4 linked regions of the Homo sapiens genome follow. The protein of the gene in region 2 interacts with the protein of the main gene of each other region in a pairwise test. Each region holds a gene or a part of one and is shown on either strand. Other genes may lie near its edges.

The links.
Region 1: the proteins of FAM107A (region 2) and CCDC57 interact in binary tests that used the Homo sapiens proteins (3 or more experiments, as listed by UniProt).
Region 3: the proteins of FAM107A (region 2) and ESRRG interact in binary tests that used the Homo sapiens proteins (3 or more experiments, as listed by UniProt).
Region 4: the proteins of FAM107A (region 2) and TRIM37 interact in binary tests that used the Homo sapiens proteins (3 or more experiments, as listed by UniProt).

Annotation. Positions count from the first base shown.
Region 1 is NC_000017.11:82,195,829-82,202,853, forward strand, and holds part of CCDC57 (coiled-coil domain-containing protein 57), read right to left. Parts: intron 6,125-7,025; coding exon of another isoform or gene 6,117-6,124; coding exon 5,710-6,116; intron 2,597-5,709; exon of another isoform or gene 2,595-2,596; coding exon 2,486-2,594; intron 1,269-2,485; exon of another isoform or gene 1-1,268. UniProt on the Homo sapiens protein: Pleiotropic regulator of centriole duplication, mitosis, and ciliogenesis. Critical interface between centrosome and microtubule-mediated cellular processes. Centriole duplication protein required for recruitment of CEP63, CEP152, and PLK4 to the centrosome.
Region 2 is NC_000003.12:58,574,378-58,582,000, forward strand, and holds the start of FAM107A (actin-associated protein FAM107A), read right to left. Parts: upstream 3,015-7,623; 5' UTR 2,932-3,014; intron 438-2,931; exon of another isoform or gene 1-437. UniProt on the Homo sapiens protein: Stress-inducible actin-binding protein that plays a role in synaptic and cognitive functions by modulating actin filamentous (F-actin) dynamics. Mediates polymerization of globular actin to F-actin. Also binds to, stabilizes and bundles F-actin.
Region 3 is NC_000001.11:216,517,426-216,524,450, forward strand, and holds part of ESRRG (estrogen-related receptor gamma), read right to left. Parts: intron 1,997-7,025; coding exon 1,727-1,996; intron 1-1,726. UniProt on the Homo sapiens protein: Orphan receptor that acts as a transcription activator in the absence of bound ligand. Binds specifically to an estrogen response element and activates reporter genes controlled by estrogen response elements.
Region 4 is NC_000017.11:59,096,857-59,103,881, forward strand, and holds part of TRIM37 (E3 ubiquitin-protein ligase TRIM37), read right to left. Parts: intron 1-7,025. UniProt on the Homo sapiens protein: E3 ubiquitin-protein ligase required to prevent centriole reduplication. Probably acts by ubiquitinating positive regulators of centriole reduplication.

The sequences.
Region 1 (7,025 bases), on a different chromosome or scaffold from region 2:
CCCAGAGCCCACACAGGATCGGACTACCCAGAACCACACCGGATGTGTGCTGCCCAAGTTTCCCCTAGTAACCAAAGCTGCCACGTTAAAACGTCACGTTTCCTTCTTTCCAGAGACAAGGATACTATCTGAACATGATAAAAAATCCATGTTCCCAACGTCTGAGATGGCTCTCCCTGAACGAGCCCTGCTGAGTCTGAGAAATTCGGCGTGGACAGCCTGGGAAGTCAGCCATAGTCACGGCCCAGCCAGAAACTCTGACAAGAATGGCTGCGCCCTGCCAACTACAACCAGCCTCAAATCGCCACTGTCCCCAGATGCTGCCAAGAGCCCCCCACCTGCTGGGCAGGACCACCCACAGCTGGATCCTCCTCAAACTCCTTCTTTGGAAGTGACTTTGGAGCCACTTGAGGAAGCCTCACTACTTAGAAAAGTCACCACTGGTCTCTTACTGACCACGGATTTTAGACGCTGGCTTCATGCCTAAAGAACTCCGGCTGTTCTCAAACTCATCCATAATCGACAAAGCTCTTTGGTTTCTGAGAATTCCAAGAGAAAGTCCTCTGCAGGCCATTTCAGAAGCAGCCTCAGGGACCTGTGAACAACGGGAGTGAGCTCAGCACTTCCGGGGACAACTGGACAGTCCACAGGAGGGCCCATCATGACGTGAGCGTGGCCTCCTTCTCTGCTGACCTGACTGTGGCAAATTAGTGACACACTGGCCTATCCTACTATGACCAAGCTCCCAACATCCGACAGGACCAGAGAGGGGACCCTGTCACACCTGCACAAAGCCCTTCATCACTGCTGCACCTGCACAGACGCAGCCCCTTATGACACCCCCATAGACACAGCTTCTAGTAACACTTACACCTACCTGCATAGACAGAGCCATTTATTACACCTGCACCTGCAGAGACGCAGCCCCTCATCACACCTGCACCTTCACAGAAGAAGCCCCTCAGGACACCTGCAGAGACGCAGCCCCTCATGACTCCTGCACCTGCAGAGACGCAGCCCCTCGTGACTCCTGCAGAGACGCAGCCCCTCATGACTCCTGCACCTGCAGAGACGCAGCCCCTCGTGACTCCTGCACCTGCAGAGACGCAGCCCCTCGTGACTCCTGCACCTGCAGAGACGCAGCCCCTCGTGACTCCTGCAGAGACTCAGCCCCTCGTGACTCCTGCAGACGCAGCCCCTCATGACTCCTGCAGAGATGCAGCCCCTCGTGACTCCTGCAGAGACGCAGCCCCTCGTGACTCCTGCACCTGCAGACACACAGCCCCTCATGACTCCTGCACCTGCAGAGACACAGCCCCTCGTGACTCCTGCAGACGCAGCCCCTCGTGACTCCTGCAGAGACGCAGCCCCTCATGACACCTGCAGAGACGCAGCCCCTCGTGACACCTGCACCTGCAGAGACGCAGCCCCTCATGACACCTGCACCTGCACAGGCACAGCCCCTCATCACACGTAAACCTGCAGAGATGCAGCCCCTTGTCACATATGCACACAGTGGCAGCATCTCTGACTGTGGTCTCTAGATATAAATCTATAGGATGTCTTTCAACAAAACCCCAGCACAGCTGAGTCTCTTGGAGGTGTAGGCTGAGTTTCCAGAACATTGAGGAGAAATTCGGTGACTGCCACTTTTCAGTTGAAGCATCTGTTTTTAAACTTATCATAATTGAATTCCAAATTCTTTTCCATAGTAAATAATTCATGTTTTTAAAATTATACCTTTCTAAAAATAAATTTAAAAGTTTCATCATTTCTGAGGTGTGCTGGTTAATTCCATGTGTCAAATGACTGGGCTACGGGCTGCCCGGATAGCTGGTAAAAAATTATTTCTGGGAGTGTCTGCAAGGGTGTTTCCAGAAGAGACTAGCCCTCCTCCTGTGGATGGGCGTCATTCAATCCACTGAGGGCCTGAATAGAACGAAATGCAAGGAAGGGTGAACTCGCTCTCTCTGCTTGAGCTGAGACACTCGCCTTCTCCTGCCCTTGGACATTGGGCTCCTGCATCTTGGGCCTTCAGAGCTGGACCAGGACTCACATCAGTGGCTCCCTGGTGCTCAGGCCTTTGCCCCTGGGCTGAATTACACCACCAGCTTCCCAGGTTTTCCAGCTTGCAGATGACAAACTGTGGGACTTCATGGCCTCCGTAACTGCACGAGTGAATTCCTACAATTTATCTCCTATATATCTACACGTCTCCTATTGCCTGTTTCCCTGGAGAACCCTGACTAATCCATGAGGAAAGAAAACAAGGAAACACTGTGGAGGTGGCTGCATGTAGACATCCCATCCTGTTTCCCTGCAGACCATCCCAGAGTGGCATCTGCCCCAAAGACCCCATTTTACTCCCAAGGAGAATGCAGGCAATGAACCAAATGGTTGTCTTTTCCTCAGCCCTATATGATTTCAGTTTCACAGTGGGCAGGCAGGGAAAGCACCCAGGAAGGGGCCGACCCAGAGGCTCTACCTGTCTCTGCAGAGCAAGCTCACCGTCGAGCTCCTCAAGTTTTCTCTCCAGTGTCCATTTTAGATTTTCATACTGTTCCCGGTGGTGGTCAATCTCACCATTCTTGTCACTATGGTAATAAAACAGCATTAAGAAAAGCCATACCAAATATTCAGCAAAGGTAATACATTTTCAAGGTGCACTTGACATGTGAAAGTTGGTGCTTTGCTTTTATGAAGGGGTGGCTTCAGCAGGACCCACGGGGTAGCAGAACTTCCAGCCCCACCTGGACCAGCATGCTACACCCATCTATAAAAGAGGAAATTAAATAGGGCCCAGAGTCTCACAACATAAAACCCAAAATGTCCAGGATACAATTAAAAAAAAAACCTGACAACCAAAAACCGGAAAGATCTGACCAGGCCCAGTGGCTCACGCCTGTAATCCCAGCACTTTGGGAGGCCGAGGTGGGCGGATCACAAGGTCAGGAGATCGAGAGCATCCTGGCTAACACGGTGAAACCCCGTCTCTACAAAAAAATACAAAAAAAATTAGCCGGGCGTGGTGGCGGGCGCCTGTAGTCCCAGCTACTCGGGAGGCTGAGGCAGGAGAATGGCGTGAACCCGGGAGGTGGAGCTTGCAGTGAGCTGAGATCGTGCCACTGCACTCCAGCCTGGGCGACAGAGCGAGACTCCATCTCAAAAAAAAAAAAAAAAAGAAAAAGGAAAAAAAAGAAAGATCTGAGCTTGAAGGAGAAAAGATAATAGGTAGATGCCAACACCAAGATGACACAGACGCTGGAATTCTTCAACAAGGAAGCTACAGCAGTCATTATAAAAGCGCTTCAAGTAATCTAGTAAAGCAAATGGAAAAACAAATCTCAGCAAAGAAAAAGCTATAGCAGGCTGGGTGTGGTGGCTCACGCCTGTAATTCCAGCGCTTTGGGAGGCCAAGGCAGGTGGATCACCCGGGGTCAGGAGTCCAAGACCAGCCTGGCCAACATGGTGAAACCCCATCTCCACTAAAAATACAAAAATTAGCCGGGCATGGTGGCACACACCTGTAGTGACAGCTCCTCGGGAGGCTGAGGCAGGAGAACCCCTTGAACCCCGGAGGCAGAGGTTGCAGTGATCCGAGATCGCGCCACTGCACTCCAGCCTGGGCGACAGAGCAAGACTCTGTCTCAAAAAAAAAAAAAGAGTGTGAGACTGAAAAAGTACCTGAACATGGCTGAAAACATCCCAGGTTTGGAGAGAAGAATGAGCAAAAGACTTGAAGAGACACTTCACAACATAACGTAAAGCACTTTTAAAAGGATGCTGTAAACACTCTGGAAAGCAGCTATGAGAAAGTCAGCACCCGCACGGCGGGCAAGTGGGCCTCAGCTGTCCAAGCACTGCACGCACCTGCACGGACTCGGCGCCCAGACGAGGTGCAGGCTGAGCACCAGCCTTCATGCTGGGGACGGGAGCTTCCAGACACCCTCCCTCCACTCAGGGAGAAGCTGACCTCCAGCTCAACTCTCTCTTTCCCTGGACACTGGGCAGGTGGCACACGGGTGTCTACCACATTAGCAAGCAGCACTGCGTGGGTCAAATGACTGCTGACTGGCACTTTTTATCCACGCCGCGAGATGCGATAGAGAGAGGGACCATCAACACTGTGGGCTTCCCAGAAGACGGTGGCGCTCAGGGTACATCTGCTGCAGGGACTGCAGACGCGATCCCTGCGGGCTGCTACAGGAGATACTGGCTGCACAATACTGGTTGGGGCTTCTGAGCTAGAGGGGCACCACACCCACCAATGTGGGTCTCCTCTCCTTGCACCTGACCTGCCGCAGAAGGTCTCTCTGCTGGACCGGAGCACCTGGTGTGGTCCTGTTGGCCCGTTCACACCCATCTGAGACCCTTCTGAGCAAACCGGCCCAACACACACAACAGAGGGTAGCTGGTCAGTTAAAAGGGCGTGGCAGAACCCAGCGCACTGACACGAAGGACAGACACCACAAATCGATCAGGAAGTGCTGGACGCACATTTCGGAGCAGTGTGCGCAGGTGGCTCTATATGGGGCCTGGAGATGACACAACAGATTGCCCGTGGCGGCTTTCACTTCGCCATTCCACCACAGTATCTTCTCTGAGAAATGACTTTCTATGATAAGAATAGTTTACTCCTGCGGCTTTAAAAAGTGCTTTAAAAAGCTGCTTATGGCCAGGCGCGGTAGCTCACGTCTATAATCCCAGCACTTCAGGAAGCCAAGGCCAGTGGATCACCTGAGGTCAGGAGTTCAAGACCAGCCTGGGCAACATGGCAAAACCCCGTCTCTACTAAAAATACAAAAGAAAAAAAAATTAGCCGGGCGTGGTGGTGGGCACCTATAGTCCCAGCTACGTGGGAGGCTGAGGCAGGAGAATCACTTGAACCCGGGAGATGGAGGTTGCAGCGAGCCGAGATCACGCTACTGCGATCCAGCCTGGACAACACAGCTAAAAACTCTGTCTCAAAAAAAAAGAAAAGAAAAAAAATGCTGCTTATGTTAGAAGAATACATAAAACATAAAAAAAGTACCCAGGATCCTGTTAAGTGTAAACAGAGCATGCAGCCGGCTCTCCTAACGTCTGTACACACGCATCACACAGGAAGGGCCTCTGTTAATGTGCTATGATGAACCTGCGGTACTTCTGAAGTGGGGGATGGAAGAGCTTATCAGAGAAGCCTGTCCTCCTTCCTTCCTGTCTCCTCAAACTCTCCACAGCATGGCTGGGTGAGTGGAGCTGAGGGGATACCAGGCATGTGGTTGAGTTCCAGGGGCCCCACCACAGGCCCCACAACAAAGGCTTTAGGTTTTTATGTCGACTTGCCTTAAGTCAGCTCATTTAGTTTTGAAATTACTACAGACTTCCATTAAAATCATTATAAATTCAAATATGTATTAATATAGATTTATAATTAATGAAATAAATTCCAAATATTAAAACCAATCTCCATTAATTTCAGAGTTATATCAGAACCCAGAAAAAGACAGTCAGGGCATTCCTGGATCCATCCACATTAACTCAACAAACACATGTTCAGAGGCCACGAGGCACTCGGCCACTCAGACAGACCAGCTCCCGTGGCCTGGAATCAGCAGCGGGAGGAGGGGCAGTGAGAGTGGGCAGTGCTCGGGCAGCACAGCGGAGCAGGAGGCATGTGGGGGCCTCTGCCAGGCACTGCACAGGAGGGCGCGTCGGTCGGTGGCTCACCTGTGGACGCGCTCCAGCTCCAGGCGATGCTCCTGGAATGCCAGCTGCTGCTGCTGCTGCAGCTCCTCCACCTTCCTGGCCTCTCTGGCTAGCGCCTGCCTCAGCTTAGCTGCCTCTATCTTGAGCTCGCTCACCTCTGCCCGCCTGGCCTCTTCCCACTCCCTGGCCTGGGCGAAGGCGGCGTCATAGCGCTCCAGCTCGAGGTCCCGCTCCTCCAGCACCTGAAGGTTGTAGACAAAGTCCTCCTGCAGGCACCGCAGTTTCCCCTGCGCCTCCTCCAGCTGGCTCCGTGTGTCCTGCAGAGCCGCCTCCTGCAGCTGGGTGCGGTGTGCCTGCAGCGCCCTCCACTCCTCCTCCTTGCGAAGCAGCAGCTCATTCAGGGCGGGCTCTGAGCCCAGTGGCAGCATGGTGGCCGCTGCAGTAAAGAGAAATCAGGTTCAGGGTGCACCGTGAGGGGCCCTAATTTTCCTACCACAGTACCTACCTCACATTCCCTATCAACAGTTACCACGGCCGGGCACGGTGGCTCACACCTGTAATCCCAGCCCTTTGGGAGGCCGAGGCAGGCGGATCACCTGAGGTCAGGAGTTCAAGACCAGCCTGGCCAACATGGCAAAAACCTGTCTCTACTAAAAATACAAAAATTAGGCCGGGTGCAGTGGCTCACGCCTGTAATCCCAGCACTTTGGGAGGCCCAGGTGGATGGATCACTTGAGGTCAGGAGATCGAGACCAGCCTGGCTAACATGGTGAAACCCCGTCTCTACTAAAAATACAAAAAATTAGCCTGCTGTGGTGGCACGTGCCTGTAGTCCCAGCTACTCGGGAGGCTGAGGCAGGAGAATCGCTTGAACCCAGGAGGTAGAGGTTGCACACCAGCCTGGGTGACAGAGCAAGACTCTCTCTCAAAACAAAATAAACAAAAAAAAAAGGCCAGGCATGGTGGCTCACTCCTGTAATCCCAGCCCTTTGGGAGGCCAAAGTGGGTGGGTCACCTGAGGTCAGGAGTTTGAGACCGGCCTGGCCAACATGGTGAAACCCCGTCTCTACTAAAAATATAAAAATTAGCCATGCATGGTGGCGCATGCCTGTGATCTCAGCTACTCGGGAGGCTGAGGCAGGAGGATCACTTGAACCCAGGAAGTGGAGGTTGCAGTGAGCAGAGATCGCACCATTGCACTCCAGCCTGGGCGACACTAAGACTCTTTTCTCCAAAAAATTAAAAAAATAAATTAAAAAAAAGAAATCCAGGGGAAGTAGAGGAAGGGAAGATGGGAAACATGGTTTGTCCAGCTATAAGAGCTAGGTTCTATAAAA
Region 2 (7,623 bases):
TGATTCCTAGAGTCAGCCAACTTTGCAAACCATGGAGTTAAAAACCCAAAACACAAACTTATTTGCTTCGGTCCTGAAGGATCTCAGCTGACTGTAGTTGGCCTGGTTATTGTGAGCAAATCTGATTAAGGTCACAGTTCTTAGCAGCTGTGTGATCTTGGGATGGTCTCTAACCTCTGGGATGCTCCTCTGTAGAATTGTGATGCTGTGAAGATTGGATGAGCTAAAGAGCTGGGCATGGGGTGGAGGCCACCAGTAGGCGACAGCTATTGAGTGTCTTGCATGACTATAGGATGGCAAATAATTCTCAATATGCAGTTTATGGGACTGATGTTGTTTTTCCTGGGGTGGGGATAATAAGGGGTCTGAGGAAAGATTTGGAACCCCTTGCTTGGTTCCTCCCTGGTTCTGTTGGTGACCCAAGAGGTCCCAGAGCTCCTTGCCACAGGCTCCACAGGATGTTGGCCCCACACCAGGCAAGGCTCAGCAGAGATCACTGCTGCTCCCACGGAGAGTGCACCGGGCCACTGGGGCATGCATGGCTAATGCAGGGTGGCAGATTTGAAACCAAACACTGGTGCCTGCAGCCACAGGAGAGAGTAAGGAGAGACAGAAGGAGAGCTGCACTGATGGAGTCTCGGGGCCCAGTTCGTCTTGACAATAGCCATGGGACCCCAGGCTGTCTAAGGCCTCAGTGTCCCTTCCACTTGCCTCTCCACTGTTCTGGTAGTCATGTTTCTGTCTTCGATGGCATCAGTTGTAACAAATGACACATAAGCCAGTAAAGCAATGGTTAAAGCAGATGTTTTAGTGGAGACAGAGTGGGTTTGATTCATGGTGGCAATCCTTCCCAGCTGTGTTACCTTGGGCAAGTAGCTTAACCTCTCTGAGCCTCTATACAGCAAGGATAACAGCCTATTCATGGAGCAGTTTGGAGGGTGAAGTGATACAATGGCATGATGTGCTTAGCCCAGCGCCTGGCAGAGTGATGCTCACCGAAGACAAACTATGGTACTTCTGTCCTGAAGAAACCCTGTGGTCACCACTAGAATTTGATCTGGATCTCTAAATCACCCTTGGAGGCAGCCAGTGGTACCCTGTTTTATAGATGAGAAAACTAAGGCTCAGAGAGGCCAAGCTACTTGTCTCGATACACAGAGAGTAAGCAGCAAAGCCAGGACCTTGGACGCCAAATTCAATGCTCTTTCTACCTCTCCACTGTCTTCAAGGTGCAAAATGTCTTTTAGTTGACAAAGCAGGGTTATGTCCCTTTTCTCTCTCTAGATAGTCAAGAAACCCCAATGAAGAGGCTGTGTGAGCCCATTTTATAGATAAGAACATGGAGGCCTGCTAACTTGAGGACTCCTAGCCTACGTGAAATGCAAACTCTCACTGGGGAGCCCCAGCCTGGCCCTAGCAGCTTTGGGCTTAAGCTAGAGTCCACGGGCCTGTCTGGCCTCAGGCTGGTCTCTGTTTAGGAGAGGACCAGCTGGTGGCCTTCCCTCCTGTGCCCCCACTTCCTCATTACTGTTCAAGCTGCTGGGTTCCGAACACATTCAGAACCCTCTTGGTTCAGCATTTAATGGGATGCCAGGGCAGAGGAGAAGAGAGGCTTTCAAAATAACGACTGGCAAAGGAAAAACAGGCATTCAGTAAAAGTGACAAGCACGGTCACTGGATTTCCTGACCCTTCTGGCTTTTTTCCTCTCCATGGGGAAAGTGCCTATTTGTATTTCACTGGCCAGCAGCCAAAGAACAGTGTATCTCGGAGCCACCTCCAGATCTCCCAGCAGCTTCTGGTCGATGCTCGGAAGCCCCCAGCAGAGCTGCTTGTCCATTTGGATGCAATGACTCAAGGCTGACTTCCTGAACATTTTGCCTCAGGTCCGTTGCAACTTCCTACCTCGGAAGGAGAATGTTGGGTGGACATTTAGGATTTTGAACCAATTAAATAGCAGAGTCCAGGGCTAGACATGGAGGATACTTAGCAAGGTTAGTGGACAGCATTGTGCAGTTGATCTGGAACAAGCATCAGCAGACCTGGAATCCCTGCTGGCTCATTAGTGGCATGATGTCAGCCACTTTACCTGGCAGATGCCTCTGCAGGGAAAATTCCAGCAGGTACTCACCACCAACAGAACTAAGAGGGCCACTCAGGATCTAAGCCACCCAGAGATGCAGGCGTGGGGGCTGCCTTGAAGCTCAAAGCTACTTGGGTTTGGTAGCAGTTTCAAAAAGTGACACACCCAATCCTACAGCTCTTGATTTCTGGCCCAATCTCAGACTTGCCTTGTATTGCAAAGTCCTAAAGCCAAATTCACCAGAAAGGCAGGCCCTTCACACGTTAACCTGCGTGCACTATGTGCCATGCACTGTGCTAAGCACCTAGCAGCCATATCTCATGAAATATGAAATTCTTACGACAGACTGAAGAGGTGGGTACTGTTATTATCCTCTTTTTACAGTCAAGGAAACTGAAGTTCAGGGAAGTCATCTGATTTCCCCAAATCACACAGCCGGTGAAGGAAAGAGCTTGAATCTGAGCCAAACTCTGAAGCTGAAATCTGTGTTCTGTCTGTTGTGCTGAGAATTAAACCCCCATACTGTGTGATAATTGACTTAGGTGAGGCTATATCATGCATTAATTCAGATTCACCTGAGGATGCAGCAGAAAAAGATCAACAAGAATGCAGGGCTATGCCAGGGGGCTCGCTTCTTTGTCTCCTACCCTTTTCCGAAACCCAGGGTGCCTGGAGGCATCTCCCGTATCATTTTATGGATGCTGGGACATAGCCCGGGTACCTAAACTCAAAGCACTCAGGTCCACTGACAGCCCACTTCAGTGTACCGGGTCTGCCCTCCTTCCCTTCCACCTCCTCCCGAACGGCACCGCTCTCAACAGCAGATGAAACAGAACAGAGATGGTCTTACTTCTCAGGTCGAGTCCTTGGGAAGGGAAGTCAGGAGCGTGTTGCTGGGTTCCTCACTCCACCGGGAAGTCCCAGACTAGCAAGGAGGGCTGCCTCTAGAGGGCGGTTCTTAAACCCCTGGGAACGGAGGCTGCTGAAATGTGCCAACAAGTGAGACAGCCTTTGCATTCCTGTTTATTCTGGTATCAATAAAAAGGAACTGTTACTATAGTAACAGATATTCCACTTGGTGCACGGCCACTTCCACGATGCGGAACATCATGTCCAAGCCACACGCTTGAGAGGCACAAATAAATACCCATTTTGTCAGATTGATGAGGAATAAGAAACACGCCAAGCTTTGTTCTGAGCAAGGCGGCTCACGTAAAGGAATTTCCCTTGTTTCTTATGGGAGGGTCAGGCAAGAGTGGATTCCAGCACTTCCCCATGGGAGGGGAAGCCAAGCTTCCTGAGGCAGTGGTGTGGATTCTTCAGGAGAAAATGGCTCTGGGGGGAAAAGGGTGGGGTGTAAAGGGAGGGGAAACTGCTCAGCATTGGGTCAGTTCTTAATTATCCACGAATGGGTCAGAAACTCCGTACACAGCGTTTTCCTGATACCTTGAATGTCATTGGAACTTCACAGAGGAGCCAACGGAAGAGCGTGGGAGAGGGGATGCACCGTGTCTGGGTCTCAGCAGGCTCATGTGTTGGCCCTGGCTCCAGCACCAGCCCCTTCAGCAGCCACTCAGTGTCTCTGTGTCTTGGTTTCTGTGTTTGTCAAATGTGGAGCATACCAGGGTGGTTGGGAGATGACATGGATGAGATGACATTAGTGAAGCACATAGTCAAAGCTCAGCATATAGGACTTTTCTCCAAGAGAGACCTGGACTCTACGTGATCTGAGGCCAGAGCCCAGCATGGTGCATTTTGCCTGGCAGAATATGTGTTCCATAAGTAGTGGCTCAATGAATGAACATGTGAATGTAAAATATAAAAGTAGGCCAGGCATGGTAGCTCATGCCTGTAATCCCAGCACTTTGGGAGGCTGAGGTAGGCAGATCATTTGAGGTCAGAAGTTTGAGAACAGCCTGGCCAACATGGTAAAACCCTGTCTCTACTAAAAATACAAAAATTAGCCAGGGGTGGTGGCACACACCTGTAATCCCAGCTACCTGGGAGGCTGAGGCAGGAGAATTGCTTGAACTTGGGAGGCAGAGTTTGCAGTGAGCCAAGATTGGGCCACTGCACTCCAGCCTGGGTGACAGAGCAAGACTGTCTCAAAAAAACCCAAAAAACAAACAAACAAAAAAACCCAAGAAAAGTAAAAAATGTATGTAGATCCTTAAGGCCAGCCTGGATGCTTATAGATAATGGAGGCATTCTCCTAATTTCAGAATCAGCTTTCACTTGAAAAGCTGGAAGTGTTTTCTATCGTTTAGTGTCATCCTAGTTCCCCAGTGAGGAAGCTGGGGTCTACCAGTTAGACCAGGCCTCCACCCCAACTTTACTTTCTCATGGAGTCTTGGTTGGCTAGAAGGTGATGAGGCCTAGGACATGCATCACAGGTGAATGGAGGCTTTAACAAGGCAACCTTGTGTCTTCTTTGGCCTATATTATTTGTTCATTTAACAAACATTTATTTAATTCCTACTGTGTTCCTGGCACTGTTCTAAGTGCTGGGGGTACCATGTGAATGACACAGGTAATATCCCTGCTGTCAGGGAACCTACCTTCAAGGGGGACACACAGTAAAGAAGGGGACATTCAGGATGACGTCAGGCAGTGAGGAATGCCGTGATGAACGCAAGGCTGGGTGAGGTGAGAGCGGGTGGTGTTTTAGGGTAGCAGAATCACAAGGAGTCAGTTGTGTGAAGTCTGTACACATGGGAGAGTCTTCGTAGGGTGGGAAGAGCCAGTGGAAAGGCCCAGACTGGGTGGATCCTGGTGTGATGTAAAGGCAGGCTGGGTGCCATCTTGGGAGTGAGGGAGGTGGGAGACAGGGGTGGAGTGGGAGGGACAGGGCAGGCATGTCCAGGGAGTCTTGGCCACGCTGACCATTCTCGAGCCACTTAAACTAAGAGGGTCCTAAATTCTTGGGTATAAAACAATTTTCTGGAAACAATGTGTGGTCCCTTTTTTTCTTCTTCCCCAATTCTGCATTTCTTGAGGCACTATGAATGGTAGCCCCCTCAGCCTCCCACCCTGCTCTGCCTTAACTTCCCCAAACTCTCCTGGTAGAAGAGGACAGCTAGATTCTTGTCAAACCACTCTTTGCTGACCCTGGTTCCTTGCACACATCCTCCTGCTCTGCAAAGAAGTATTTTGAATATTTCCTAGGGTCTTTGGTGGCTCAGATGAACCAATCCCAGTGCCTTCTAACAGTTGGAGAGTAAGAAGGATCCTGGAGCGGGGGAACTTCTGACAGCTCCTGCTCATCCCCGGAGAAGACAGAAGCCCATCACCTGGTACACTTCAGAGGAACACGCACCTGACAGCCAAGGAGAACTGGGCAGTAGTCCTCGGATGTTGGGCGTCATTTTCCGTGGGCAGTTGGGAGTCACTGTGCTTCTCCCACAAAAACTCTTCTCACAGTCCAACTTGTATACAAACCCATCAGACTGCTAGCCCCAGGGCAGGTACCTACCTATCTTCCTGTCCCAGTACTGAGGGGCTCAATAACTATTGTTAACCTGAAGACACCGAAAACCTTGACAGCGCTGAGCTTGTTACAGCACCATCTTGCTGTGTGTCCATGTGCAGGTGCAACTGTACGTGAGATCAGCGGCCAACCACCACCCTTTCCCAGGCCACACTCCATCAGCAAGAGACTATGCTACACCCCAAGACGAGATGCAGCCAATAAACATGTCTATGTATTGACCTGAAAAAGATGTCTTCTACATATTCAATGAAAAATCATATGTAGTAGGATCTCTTTTTTTTTTCAAGATAAAAAAGTTGGTATATGTATAAAGAACTAGTGTGGAGGCAAATACACTAATCTGTTAGCAGAGGTCAACTCTAGATCAGTGTATCTCAAATACTATTACTAGATGTCATTTGAAATGAGTGCTAAAAATGCTCTTGCTTTTTTTTTTTCCTAGGGAGGAACCTAGGAATCTGGATTTTTTTTTTTTTTTTTTTTTTGAGACAGAGCATTACTCTGTTACCTAGGCTGAATGCAGTGGTGCCATAATGGCTCACTGCAGCCTTGACCTCCTGGGATCAAGCGAGCCTCCCACCTCAGTCTCCCAAGTAGCTGAGACTACAGACACATGCCACCACACCCAGCTAATTTTTTATTTTTTTTAGAAATGAGATCTCACTGTGTTGCCCAGGCTGGTCTTGAACTCTTGGCCTCAAGTGTTCCTCCTGCTTCAGCCTCCCAAAGTGCTAGGATCACAGGAATGAAGCCACCATGGAATCTGGATTTTAAACATACCTCTCTGGGGGCTCATTTATATTAAAGAGTTTGAGGACCATTGTTCTACAGCGTAAAATTACAGGCCCTTCTCCTTTGTCACTGCATTTCTGTGATGTTTGCGGTGTTAAAAGAAAAAAAAAGGCCCTAGCATATATTACTTTTGTTATCAGAAAAAGACTCTAAGAATTAAAAATGTGAGAAAGAGCAACATTTCCCAAACAACTGTAGTTAGTTAGGAATCACATCTGGCTCAGTTATGTCATCAGAATATGGGAAAACAGAGGCCCTCTGAACAAACAAGCCTTTGAGGCGTTTACTCCAGGTAATTGCATAATTCAAGCCACAGTCGCTGTCTCCTGCCTCCTTCTGTGTGGCTTTCCCTGGAGGTCTTCCTATTCTTCCAAAAGGAAGGACTCTGGGAAGCCAGGGGCCTGGGGATCTGCATACTTGCTCGGCCCCCTGGTGAGCTGGGGCATCAAAGGGGGAAGCCCAGGGGCTGGGCACACCCCTCCTGTCTTCCCTCCCATCCCCTTTTAACTCTGATTTCTTGGGAACCAGAGGAACCCAAAGGAAGGGGGACAGGGAAGACCAGGGGAGGCAGTCCTGACAGGGAGGTGGAGAATTTTCCTGCATCTATAGTGGGCTGGGCTGCAGTGTGCAGAAAATAACCTCCCCAAACAGCTTTTGTTTCATTTTTGCCCCCTTTCTCCAAGCCCATGGGCGCCTAGAACAGCTTATCTGGGCCCACGAACATCAAACAAGAAGTTTCCATGGCAACTTAAAACTTCCTCCTCAGCCCTGTATTCAGTCTAAATCTCCAAGGCCCCTTTTCAAGGCCTCAATGGGGTTTCTGAGCAGCCACCCACAAAACAGCCCTAGGATTAAACCGTGCCCCCCGCCTCTCAAACATGCTCTGCAGAAAGGACTCGGGGGTTGGGGGAGAAGAAGCTGTGCTGGCAGAAAGAACCTGTCATGGGATCTGTGGAGAGATTATAAAAGGAATGAGAGTCGCCTTTACAACAAGTTTGAACCGGGAAGAATTTACCCAGTTGAGGGATTTCAAGCGTGAAAATGGGAAAGTGAGAGGGGGTGGGGAAGAACTTAGAGTCTTGTTTCTGAAAGCTGGCTCTCCACCCAGCTGCAATTAGACATGGTTAATTTGGTCTCTTAGCTGCAGAAGGACCCTGGGGTACCCCCATCCCCAGTACATTTTAATTCCCTTGTAATCAGACAAGAAGCACAGTGAGTGAATCTATGGATGGTGAGAGGATGTGAGAGGGAGCATGTGTG
Region 3 (7,025 bases), on a different chromosome or scaffold from region 2:
TATCTAAAATTATACATTTTTAGCAATTTTGTTGATAAAGTTTTAGCATTGCTCAGCATTCATGGTTAGTTAATAATTTTTAAAAGCAATTTGAAACATAAAAGATTTAACACAGGCTTTAGTATATTTTAAAAACAATTAACCAAGTAAATGTTTTAAATTAGAATCGTTTCATGATTGCCAAATAAAAATTCTTCCCAAAACCACTGTTATAAAATATTTCATCTCATTATGAGAGATGGTATAATGTGAAGTCCATACAAACTAATAAATCCTCAGAAAATTTCTACCCCATCTCTCACTTTGATCTTCTGGAGAGGGAGGGCAGGGGATTCTTCAGGGTTCATAATAACAATGTCATTTGTCATAAGAAATCATATTTTATAATTTCACAGGAGCGTAGAAGAAGAGAGGTGCATGGTGTGGTGAGGAAGAGGGTTATATTCACAATTAAAACTGTGAAATGCTAAACTGCATTATGAAGACAAATAGGAAAGTACAACTCCATTGTTGAAAACAATTTCCCTCCTATCAGTCTAAGGATTCATGCATCAATATTGTAGATGAACTGTTAATTACAAAATCAATTAAAAATTATTTCTAAAAACAGTCACGCGTCCCTGGCTCTCATGGGGGCAATTTGGGCAGAAGGTCTCATCTCACTAGGACCGCGCCAAATCACAAAGTCGTCATCCACAAGTAAGCAAAAGCAATCTGGTTTTTCATTTTTCAGCGCGGCTGAGCCCAGCCTGAGATTGATCGTCACATATGGCCCCAGAAAACAAACTGTCAATACCTTGAATGCTGCAGAATTTGAACAAATAGCCGTCCGCCCATTCAAGCCACTCATTGCATCCCATTTAACAGATTTTATTGACAGTTTCCTTCTTGTAATTAAAGGGAAAACTACTGGCCGGCAACCAAGATAAAGTTCAAAGATAGGGTCAAAACAAAAGCAGATGGAGGGGCACGGTGTGACTGTCAGTGGTACATAGCATCAGAGCACGTTATTGACACGCAGGTATCTAATGATCGGCACGTCATTAAGGAGGGATCTATCCTGAACTTTATGCAAATGCTAAAAGAGACTTAAGACCATAATAAAGCATTAAGAGAGGCACAAAGGGAAAAACAACAAAGCACCAACGATTTTTACTTATTAGAGGTTGCTATTTTAGCATGTTTCAGTTCGAATGTAAAGACCAGTTATTCCCATAATTCTTAACCCTTACTGCATAGGCAGAATTTGACTTCTAAAGAACTCCAGAATGTAAGAAAACTGTTCTTTGATAACCAAAACTCAAAGCAACACTAAATATATTTTCCCAATTGCACAATTTGCATTTTTGAGGGAAAAATGGTTTGTGTGTATCAACAATTCCCTTGTTTTAACTTACGCATAAAATACAATAGAAATAATTTTGTCCTGGGAGTGTCCATTTATGCTATTACTACAAGAGCTTTTGCTTTGCCATGATCCAAATTAGTACATGCATTAGTTGATAAAAGTTTCAAAGCATTCAATAAGCAAGTCAAATGAAATTAATTCCCTTTAAGTATATTTTTCTTATTTCTAACTTTTCACTAGAAAGCTATACTGATTATAATTTTGCTGACTCATACAAAATTTACAAACCAGGTCTAGCAAATCCCTAAAGAAGTTAAGGAGAGGGGTAAAACTGACATATTAAAAAAAATGTAACAATGACTATGTCAGTATGCCAACCTGAATTAGCAAGAGCTATAGCTTTGAGGGTGACAAATTCTTCTTTTTCCAGCTTCATGCTCTTGTATTTCTTTACCAGCTGCAGGATAGCATTATTTAGATCAAGAAGGCCTGCTAATTTGGACTGGTCTTCGTCCATTATATAATCGTCTGCATAGACAAGTTCATCCTCAAACGAAAGAGACCGGTATACGACACCAAGGATCAAAATTTCCATCCAAGCACTCTGCAGAAGGCTCATCTGGTCCGCCAGGGACAGCGTGGAGAAGCCTGCATGGAAAGATGGGCAGATCAAGTTACTTTAAAGCCATAATTTCATAATGCAACATTAGTTTCATATGGTAGCTGGCTTCTGCATCAGTGCTCAAAATTATGCTGAGCTTTGATTAGAAGCTCTTAAAATTTTCCCTGGATCACTTTGCGAACAGCAAAGTGAAAGTCACAAACCAGCTTCTTCAATTTGTGGGTATTTGCTATAAGTTTTATAGACACAGCTTAGGGGAATATAATAGAGATGTCGCTTTCTTTCATTCGAGAAGAAAATACCATGTAATCTTTAAATATACTTGATTTCTGGTTGAAGTCTTTAGGAAAATCTTACAGGAAGTCAGATTTTCAACTATCTCATCTCTAAAAACTACTATTGGTAAACAACATAAAAGTAAAAAAAAAAAAAAGAAGAAGAAGGAGAAGAAGAAGCAGCTAAAAATAAAAGGTAAACAAACAATTTAGGCCATAGAGCTCAGCACAACTTGGAAACATTTCTGTATAATATTAATAATTACAAGCACAATGGATGATGAGTTACAAATAGGTGAGCCTTCTTAATTGGCTATTTCTCCCCACTGATATTTAACATGACTTTCTTTTAAAATTAGTGATAATAGGTATAAAAGAAAGTGTAATATGTAGCAGCCTGGCCTCCCCACCAAAGAGAAAAGCCTCGTTCACTATTGTTATTAAGCTCCAATTATTTAAAAAGTTAAATATAAATAAAGGTAACAGGGTTTGGTGCAAAGGAGTCAGATTCTGAATGTAAATACTGGCTCCACTTAGCTACTGGCTCTTTCACCTTGAGCAAGAGAAATTAACTTGTCTCTTAAATTTCGTATTTGGGAAATATAAAATATCACCTACCTAAACATTAAGCTATAACCTGAAATTCAGTAAGTGTTGTTGTATGATTAATATATGTTCTTTTTATCTGAATTACCTATGTGATCAATTCTTTTCTGCAAATCTGGGATGCATTCATACACGCATATTTAAAGTCCCTCTGAGCTTGAGAAAACATATGCAAAAAAATTAAAAAGAAAATGTTGTTCAATAGAGAAAGAGGAAGCAGTACAATTAAGCCTACTTAGGAGTGAAGATATATATTTATATATCAGAGGGACTAGATCTGTATTCTAAAGTGAAGATACCTGATGATCAGAAGCTTTTCTCAAGTCCTAAAAAAGAAATGTTTCTTAAAACTTCACTTTTATTTCCAAGTGTATGCCTAAGACTTCTAAGGGTAACCATCCACCTCATGGCTTCTGAGGACAGTGGTACCATCATTTAAGGTCCTGCCACCAGTAATTCTACAGAAAGGAAGGACCATTTTTAATAATGCAACTTAAGAAATCTATTTTTACTCCCTTTCTAGACATTATTATCCAAATCATAAGTAGCCACTGATGCCCAACCTTTTTAGGCTGCTGCTTATGGTCACTGTTGCTGTCCTTTTCAATCATATCAAATTGTGGGTATCCCATATGATATTAGAAACTACAGCACAGTAAAGAAAAGGAAAGGATTTCCTGACCTATTGGTGAAAAACAGTGGTTTGCCATTTGGTACCATTAATTATAAGTGCTTAATAAAATCATCAGAAGAGATGAGTCAAGCTTTTCTTAAGGGAATCTTTAAGATATGTGTAAAATGCATTTCTTTCGTTGTTTATCATGGTGCTTACATGTTATTTGACAGGATTTCTTTTGGACTGGCTGTGTAAGTCTTGTTTCTTATTCTGCTTTTGTCATTGCATTTGGGGTTAAATTAATAAATATCCTCTTAGAGATATAATAGCTGATAACATTTTAAACAGCGGTTCAACACAGAAAACTAAATTATTTAACCTAAATAGGTTAGGCTCCAGATGCTTTTAATTTTAGCAATGTTATATTCACAACAAACAAACAGAAAACCACACTGCTCTTTTTTCTATTCCCCTCCAAGGAAAAAAGGTGCAATGCAAATCCAAATATCAATCTCAAGAAAACATACTAAGTAAGAATTTCTTGTGTAAATTAAAATACCAAAAAAAAAAAATCATCTGGAAAGTTAGGAGCAAAAATGAATGGGTCTTTTCAATTTGCCTTAGTTTTCTTGTTCCTTTTCATGCTCCCAAGTCGCAGTTTCTCTGCAGCAGCAGATGGACAGAGCGTGTAGCCCGCAGCACCTTCCTGTGACAGCCCTATTCTCCCTCCCAGACACTGCTGTTAGTAAATAGATTTACACATTCTCCAATCTCCACACATCTTTCTGCCGAATAATTAAAAGCAGGATGATTAGTTTATTGAGTGGAAGGAGGAACTTTTTTATTGAGGTCCATCCACGATTTTATCAGGGCCAGCACTTTTACGGTTGTCAGGGGGGTGCAGGCATCCAATTTTTCTTATCTGCCTGATTAATACAAACGCTGTTTCAGGACACATTAATTAACAGATACAAATCTACGTTCTCATGGAAGGATCAATACGGAGAAGAAAAGAGGCATCAATGTGAATTTAGTGCTGATGATGGAGAAGGCACGCTAGCGACATTTACGTGCACGGAAACTTTAAAGTTGCACCGGGCCCCCTTTGTCCCTGTGATTTACAAATTAACAATGTTACAGCCATAACAACATTTCGCACATTTCTTTGGGGTTTAATTGAACAAAAAACAATAAAATTTCATTTTTAAAGTTGATCCTGCAATTTGTTTCTTCTATATTGATGGTTGTGTGTGTGTATATGTGTGTGCATGTGTGTGTGTTTATCCTTCCTGCAAACCTAACTTTTTCCTTTTGCTTCTCTATGAAATAAAGAGAAGGAAAAAAGGGGAAGAAACAGCTCTCCTTTTTTTTTTTTTTTTTTTTTTTTTTTTTGGTGAGGGAGCATGAGGAGACGGATATAGCACAAAAGGTTTGACACATTTGCTTGATTGATATCCTCAAGTATATTTCAGCTGATTAAAGGAAGTATACTTTTTGCAAATCCAAAGGAAAAAGGACAATCTATGCCTTACAAAATAAAATAAAAGTCTGAACTTCTTCTATCTTTTCTTGGTCTAGAAATTGCTGGCTCTCATTTTACCCCTTTCCTACCACACCACTGCAATCTGGAAGCTAGTACAAAGAGCTCTCCTGCCCAAATGCCTGAGCAGCAGTTAAGACAGCCTTGTTATAAGATAGTCATGTTCATCTGGTCACTAAGGAGACCAAATACATAATAGAAATTTTATCTTAATTCCATAAAATTATTTTACCTTTTCTTTAGGAGTACTAGCTACGTTGCACATACATAAAAACGCATGGATAAAATAACATTTTTATCAATAGACCTGAACAATGTATAAAATTCTAAATAACCAAGGCCTAAATGAAAATGCATGTTTTAATAAGCTGAGTCTAAGGAATTTTCTTAAAACATAATTGCTCTATTGGCTTACACATGCTTGTATCCAAATGATAATTACTTGTTTATGTTTATACCAGGTATTTAATGGTAGTTTATAGCTCTTGGGCTACAAGTTAGAGGTCTTCATCATCTGTAATATTTAGCTATCTTTGGAGAGAAACCTCTTTCCCAAGTGAAATAAAATATGCTTTGCAGTTGTGTCGTTTGAACTTCATGTTTTGTACATCCTGGGACCTTAATCTTTGGTGTGTGACAGGTTATAGTTTTAAATGTTCAGCCATATTACAGCTTTTTAAAATGCACTGATACCATGGCACATTTTTTCTTCCACAGCTATAGCCCATTCCCTGCATATCGCTGACAACTCGGATCTCTCTTCATCTCTGTCCCAGAGTCAGTGCCATTTAATGTATCTCAGGCATTTTGCTTGCAGAATGACTCTCTACCTTGACCCGCAGTTAAATAGCATGTTTATCTGCAATACAGTGTGCTCCAAATAAACCAGATGACAGTTGGGAATAACATCATTTGGAAGGATTGAAAAGCTTCTCAAGAGGCAGGTACCCCTGAGGTAATAGGCTTGAAGAAAGCATGTTTTGTGCCAACCGTCTTGCCTTCTTCTACTGGAAACTTTGGAGGTTGACAGTGGTGCCATGGGCACTCATCAAGCACTGTTTTTTTTTTTGTTTTTTTTTTTTTTTAGCCTGGCAAACTGATGCACTTTGCAGTCAACTTACAAAAAAGGCTAAGCATTTGAAAGTGTGAAGGGCAAAAAATATCTGACGGCTAGTCTTCAAAAATACACTTTCATTTCAGAAAGCATAAATGTTTATTTCCTGAACAGAGTGTTGACAGAAATAGGCTGCAGTGCAGGCATTTGGGTTTAACCCCTGCTAGGCATTTTCTTCTCGGCTGCTTTCTTGAAATAGAGAGCAAGCATTTTAAATCTTCAGGGCATCTGTTAATATCAGTTAATCATGGCATTGACTTGCCTGATCACAGTTTTTGAACTGTAGTTTTTCTGTTCCACAAAAAAAAAAAAAATCAACATTTTTCAACAACTAGCATATCATGCTAGAACTGTAATTATGCCATAATGACTCACTGAGATCACAAATGAAGTTCATTTTGAGAAGCTGATTAAGCAATGCAACGTAAGCTAGATTCTTTTCTTTCCCGTACAAATAAACCTAATGTTTACAGGACCCAGAGAAGAAAAGAATAACAGTGGCACTAACATTTGGTCTTAGCTACCAATAGACACACAGATGCATAACCCTTGCTAGAGATAAACTTATTTTGTATTTTTAAGCCAGATGTTCTTTTCACATATGGGGCAGACATATCACTTTGTCCTATGATTCACAAAATACACAGCTCAGGGGCTTGTAGGAAACTTTATATATATATATACATATATATATATATGTAAGTTATATATATATATATATAGTCTCTTGCAGGAGACTATATATATATATACACACACTTTTTTTTCATGAACTGGAACTCAGTAGGAGCTAGAGTTAAGCAGCTACAGATGGTTAACTGCAGAAGTGAAAGCTGGAACATCTACATGGTGCTATCAGAAGCATTTTATTTAAAATTTTTCTTTAAAAGAGATGATAATGATT
Region 4 (7,025 bases), on a different chromosome or scaffold from region 2:
AATTGTGCTAGGGAAATCCTCAACAAAATCCCAATAAAACTAATTCAACAGACTATTTAAAAAATTATACACTGTGGCCAAGTGGGATTTATTCCTAGAATAGAAAGATGATTCAACTACAAAAATCATTCAATGTAATAAACCACTTCATGGAAAACCCCCACTATGATCATCTCAATTGATGCAGAAAAGGCATCTGACAAAATCCAATATCCTTTCATGATAAAAATACTCAATAGAAATAGAAGGGAACTTCCTCAACTTGATAAAGGCCATATATAAAAACTCATAAAAATCATAGTCAACGATTCAAAGGCTAAAAACTCTTCCCCTTAAGATCAGGAAAAATTCCCCTTAAGATCAGGAAAAAGACAAGGATGCCAGCTTTTACCATTTCTATTTGACATAATACAGGTACTAAAAATTCCAGCCAGAGTACTTAGGCAAGATAAAGAAATAAAAAGTATCCTAATTAAAAAAGAAGTGAAATTATCTTTTTGCAGATGACATGATCTTATCTGTAAAAATCCCTAAAGAGTCCACAAAATATTGTTAAAGCTAATAAACACAACAGTTACAGGAGACAAACACACAAAAAACACTGGCATTTCTATAAGCTTGCAATGAACAATCTAAAAACGAAATTAAGAAAATAACACATTTGCAACAGCATCAAAAGGAATAAAATGCTTAGGGAAAAAAAAAACCAAGAATTTGAAAGACATACATGGAGGCTGAGTGTGGTGGCTCACACCTATAATCCCAGCATTGGGAGGCCAAGACAAGAGGGTCTCTTGAACCCAGGAAGTTGAGGCTGCAGTGAGCCATGATCGCATCACTGCACTCCAGCCTGGGTGACAGTGAGATCCTGTCTCAAAACAATAAAAAACAAAAAGAAAGACTTATACGTGCAAAACTACAATACACTGCTCAAAGAAGTTAAAGAAGTCCTAAATAAATGGAAAGACACCCATGTTCAAGGATCATAAGATTTAATATTGTTAAGACAGCAATATTACTCAAAGGCATGTACAGAATCAATGTAATCCCTACTAAAACTCCAATGGTACTTTTTATATTGGTAGAAAACTGCATTTAAAATTCACATGGAATCTCAAGGGATGCCAAATAGTCAAAACTATCTTGAAAAAGTTGGAGGACTCACACTTCCTAATTTCAAAACTTACTACAAAGCTACAGTAATCAAAACAGTGTGGTACTACCATAAGAACAGAAATAGAGACTAATAGAACAGAATAGAGAGGTAGAAATAAACAAAAATATTTTATGATTCCATTTATATGATGTACTTAGAATAGTCAATGTAAAGACAGAAGGTAGAATAGTGGTTAACAGGGGCTAGGGGGAAGAGAATAATGAGAATTTATTGTTTATCAAGTACAGAGTTTCAGTTTGGGATGATGAAAAAGTACTAAAGGTGGATAGTGGTGATGGCTGCACAACAATGTGAATGTACTTAATGCCGCTAAACAGTACACTTAAAAATACAGTTAAAATTGCAAATTTGGCTGGGCCAAGTGGCTCACATCTGTAATCCTAGCACTTGGGAGGCCAAGGCAGGCAGATCACTTGAGCCCAGGAGTTTGAGGCCAGCTTTGGCAACAAAGTAAAACCCTGTCTCTACAAAAAATAAAAAAATTAGCCAGGCACGATGGCACACACTTGTGGTCCCAGCTACTCAAGAGTGTGAAGCAGGCCAACTGCTTGAGCCCAAGAGATTGAGGCTGCAGTGAGCCATGATTGTGTCACTGTGCTCCAACGTGGGCAACAGAGTGAGACACTGTCTCATTTAAAAAAAAAAAAAAAAAAAGGCTAATTTTACATTAGGTATATTTTACCACAATTAAAAAAAAATTAACAGAATACCATATGACCCAGCAATTTCACTTCTAGATATATATTCAAAAGAAATGAAAGCAGGAACTCAAACAGATAATTGTTAACAACAGAACTATTAACAATATCCAATATCCAAAAAGTGAAAACAACCCAAGTGTCCATCAAGAGATAAAAATGGATAAATAGGCTAGGCGCGGTGGCTCAACGCCTGTAATCCCAGCACTTTGGGAGGCCAAGGAGGGTGGATCACCAGGTCAAGAGATCGACACCATCCTGGCCAACATGGTGAAACCCCATCTCTACTAAAAATACAAAAATTAGCTGGGTGTACTGGCGCACACCTGTAGTCCCAGCTACTCGGGAGGCTGAGGCAGCAGACTCGCTTGAACCTCGGAGGTGGAGGGTGTGGTGAGCCGAGATCGCACGATTGCACTCCAGCCTGGCGACAGAGCGAGGCTCTGTCTCAAAAAACAAAAAAACTTAAGAAAAAGGATAAACAAAAAGTGGTATATAGCCATGTGTCACATAAAGATGTTTCGGTAAATGATGGACCGCATATACTACAGTAGTCTCGTAAGATTAGAATGGAGCTGCCCTACATAGGTGTACCATTTTTTATCTTTTATACTGTATTTTTAATATACCTTTTCTATGTTTACTTATGTTTATTTTCTTTTTTCTTTTTTTTTAATGGGTACAGACTTTCTGTTTGGGGTGATGAAAGATTTTGGAAATAGTGATATGGTTGTATAACATTATGAATGTAATTAAAGACACCGAACTGTACCCTTAAATATGGGTAAAATGGAAAATTTTGTTATATTTATTTTAGCACAAAATGGGGGGCACTGAACAGACCCCTTACCAAAGACAACATATGGATGGTAAATAACTCCTGGAAAAGATGCTAACATCATTACTCAACAGAGAAACGCTAACTAAAACAAGGAGATACCTGTAAGAATGGCTACACGTCCCTGAGAATGGCTAAAATTCACAAAACCGAACACACCAACTGTTAGCATTAATGTGGAGGAATTGGAACTCTCATAAACTTCTGGTGAGAATGTAAAATTATAAAACTATTTCCTTTTTTTTCTTTTTGAGACAGAGTTTCGCTCTTGTTGCCCAGGCTGGAGTGCAATGGTGCGATCTCGGCTCACCACAACCTCCGCCTTCTGGATTCAAGTGATTCTCCTGCCTCAGGCTCCCAAGGAGCTGGGATTACAGACATGTACCACCAGGCCTGGCTAATTTTGTATTTTTGGTAGAGACAGAGTTCTCCATGTTGGTCAAGCTGGTCTCGAACTCCCGAATTCAGGTGATCCATCCACTTCGGCCTCCCAATCCTTTTTTTAATTTAACCTTCATCCCTCTCCTCCTCTCCCTCTTTTGAAGTCCCCAGTGTCTAGCATTTCCCCCTTTATGTCCATGTATGCTCATTGTTTAGCTCCCAGATACAAGTATTTTAGAAAATAGCTTGGCAATTTTCAAAATGTTAAACACACATCTACCACATAATCTCTATCCGTTCCATTACTAATTATTTACCCAAGAGAAAAGAAAGCTTCTTGTACACGAATGTTCGCAGCAATTTTCACTGTAATAGCAAAAACTGTAAACATGCCATATGCCCATCAACAGGTGAATGCATAAACAAATTGTGGTAAATACATACAATGGAATACTACTTAGCAATAAAAAGGAATACTACTGATACATACAGTATTTTTGCTGAGTGAAAAAAAGCCAGATCCGTAAGAGTACATATTGTATGATTTTCATTTGTATAAAATTCCAAAACATGCAAACTTATCTTTTTTCTCTTTTTCCATCCCCCTTATCTCTGAAGCAAACTTATCTATCGTGACAGAAAGCAGATCAATGGTTGCCTGGGGACAAGGCAAGTAGAGGGAGGAATTACCAAGAGGCACAAGGAAACTTTTGGGGATGACAGATATATTCACTAACTTGGATGCAATGATTGTCTCACAAGAATACATATATGTCAAAACTGTACACTTGGCCAGGCTCAGTGACTCACATCTGTAATCCTAGCACTTTGGGAGGCTGAGGTGGGTGGATCACCTGAGGTCAGGAGTTTGAGACCAACCTGACCAACATGGTGAAACCCTGTTTCTACTAAAAATACAAAATTAGTCAAGCGTGGTGATGCATGCCTATAATCCCAGCTACTTGGGAGGCTGAGGCAGGAGAATCACTCGAACCCAGGAGATGGAGGTTGCAGTGAGCGGAGATCGCGTCATTGCACTCCAGGCTGGGCAACAAGAGCAAAACGCCGTCTCAAAAAAAAAAAAAAAAGAACAAAACAAACAAAAAAACTGTACACTTTAAATATGTGTAGTTTACTGCATGTCAGTTATACCTAATAAAAAATGACTGGCTTGAAAACAAGTAGGCAAGCAATCAATATTTGCTGAATGAATGAACAAATGATTAGTGCATTCAGGAACCAAGACAGCCCTAGAAAGAAAGGTCAGAACCAGATCTGGATGGTCTGAACACAAGGCTAACATTCTTGGATTTTATCCTTTACATAATACATTTCTGAGGCTTCTGGGGAAAAGAAAGAGATATCAGTGAAAAATATTAATATAGTAGCAGGACAGAAAATGGACTGGAGATAAGAAAAGACTCAAACCTGAGAGATCAGACAGAAAGTAATTAAATAATCTAAGCATGAGGTAACCAATGTTCATACTTCTCTATTAGCATGGTAATGATAAAAACAGAAGGGTAAGACAAATATAAGTGAAACAGGGAGATAATAACTAATTGCACTTAAAAATCATTGGTATAGGCCAGAGGCAGCGGCTCATGCCTGTAATCCCAGCACTTTGGGAGGCCAAGGAGGGAAGATCAGTTGAGGTCAGGAGTTTGAGACCAGCCTGGGCAACATAGTGAAACCCCATCTCTACAAAAAAAAAAAAAAAAAAAAAAATATATATATATATATATACACACACACACACACACACACACACATATATACATATACATGTTTATATATATACATATATACACACACATATATACATATATATATACAAAAATAGCCGGGCATCATGGAGTGCGCTGATACTCCCAGCAACTTGAGAGGCTGAGGCAGGAAAATCTCTTGAACCTGGGAGGCGGAGGTCGTAGTGACCCAAGATCACGCCACTGCACTTTAGCCTGGGCAACAGAGCAAGAATCCATCTCAAAAAAAAATAAAAAATAAAAAATAAAAAAATCATTGGTATAAAGTTTCCAGTTTGAGTGACTAGCAGAACAGAACAAAAAGAATGAACTTAGAATCGGTTTGAGAAAATAATATGAATAATCTGATCTTGAACAAAGTTCAAGATGCTAGAAGGACAAGACATCCAAAAGTCAGTGCTGAAGGAATAGATTTAGGAGCCATACACACAGAGATGATAGCTAAAGCTGCTAAAGTAAATCAAATTTCCCAAAGTAGGTGAATACTCCCAGAAACCTCAGAGTAGAGAACGACAGCAACAAGATCTTAGGAAATTAAGAAATAAATGCATTTAAGGGGCAGGAGGAAGAAGATGTAACAATGAAAAAATACAGAATCAATGAGGCATAAGGTAACAACCAGAGACCATAAGCACATGGGACCTTCATCAAAAGAAATGCGCCCAGATCCAGATTCTACCACTTAATTAACTATAACGGAGTCCAATTACTTAATTTATCTAGCATCAGTTTCACTGTTTATTAAAACATGGGTAAGTGTTAATGTGTATTAGTTGCTATTTTAACAATAAAATAACACCTTACAAACAAGTAGATATAGTATTTCATAATTTCTGAATTACTCCTTAGGTTATCTCATTTAATGCCATAACCACCCTGTAAAGCAAATCATATCTGAATTCTACAGCTGAAGAAAGAAGGCCAAGAAAGAGTGAATCTCTTAGTTTTAGAAGTATGAGAACTAACATCATATTTAACTGGGTCTTCTGCGCATGGTACAGTGACAAAGAACAGGCTATAGAGTTCTTGAACTTAATGGGTTCAAATCCAGTACCATCAATTGTGAGCTGTGTGACTAGAAAAAAATTATTTAAGTGTTACGGATAATACTCTTGACAAAGGCATATGTATCTTCCTTAGGCAAGAATAAGGAAACAGAAATTTTTTTTTTTTTTGAGACGAAGTCTCGCTCTGTCGCCAGGCTGGAGTGCAGTGGCACCATCTCTGCTCACTGCAACCTCTGCCTCCCGGGTTCAAGTGATTCTCCTGTCTCAGCCTCTCGAGTAGCTGGGACTACAGGAGCATGCCACCATGCCTGGCTAATTTTTGTATTTTTAGCAGAGACAGGGTTTCACCATATTGGTCAGGATGGTCTCGAACTCCTGACCTCAGGTGATCCACACACCTCAGCCTCCCAAAATGCCGGGATTACAGGCGTGAGCTACCTACTGCGCCCAGCTGAAACAGAAAGTTTGAGGTGAAGAGCATGTGACCTCTTTGATTTTCTCAGGAAAATAAATAATTGAAGGGGAATGTGAACAAGGCAGTTTTCAACTATGCTCTGTAGATGTGCTATTGGACTCTCGCATACACAACCAAAATCTTGGACTTCCTCATTTTGTTATTTTGTTTTTTGTTTTTTTGAGACAGAGTCTCGCTCTGTCACCCAGGCTGGAGTGCACTGGCATGATCTCGGCTCACTGCAACCTCCGCCTCCTGGGTTCAAGCGATTCTCCTGCCTCAGCCTCCTGAGTAGCTGGGATTACAGGCACACACCACCATGCCCAGCTAATTTTTGTATTTTTAGTAGAGATGGGGTTTCACCATGTTGGTCAGGCTGTTCTCGAACTCCTGACACCATGATCCACCCGCCTCGGCCTCCCAAAGTGCTGGGATTACAGGCCTGGGCCACCGCGCTCAGGCCAACATTCAAGTTTTTTTTTTTTTTTTGAGACGGAGTCTCACTCTGTCGCCAGGCTGGAGTGCAGTGGCGCTCTCTCGGCTCACTGCAACCTCTGCCCTCCCGGGTTCAAACAATTCTCCTGCCTCAGCCTCCCAAGTAGCTGGGACACAGGTACATGCCACCATGCCCAGCTAATTTTTGTATTTTTAGTAGAGACAGGGTTTCACCATGTTGGCCAGGATGGTCTCGATCTCTTGACCTC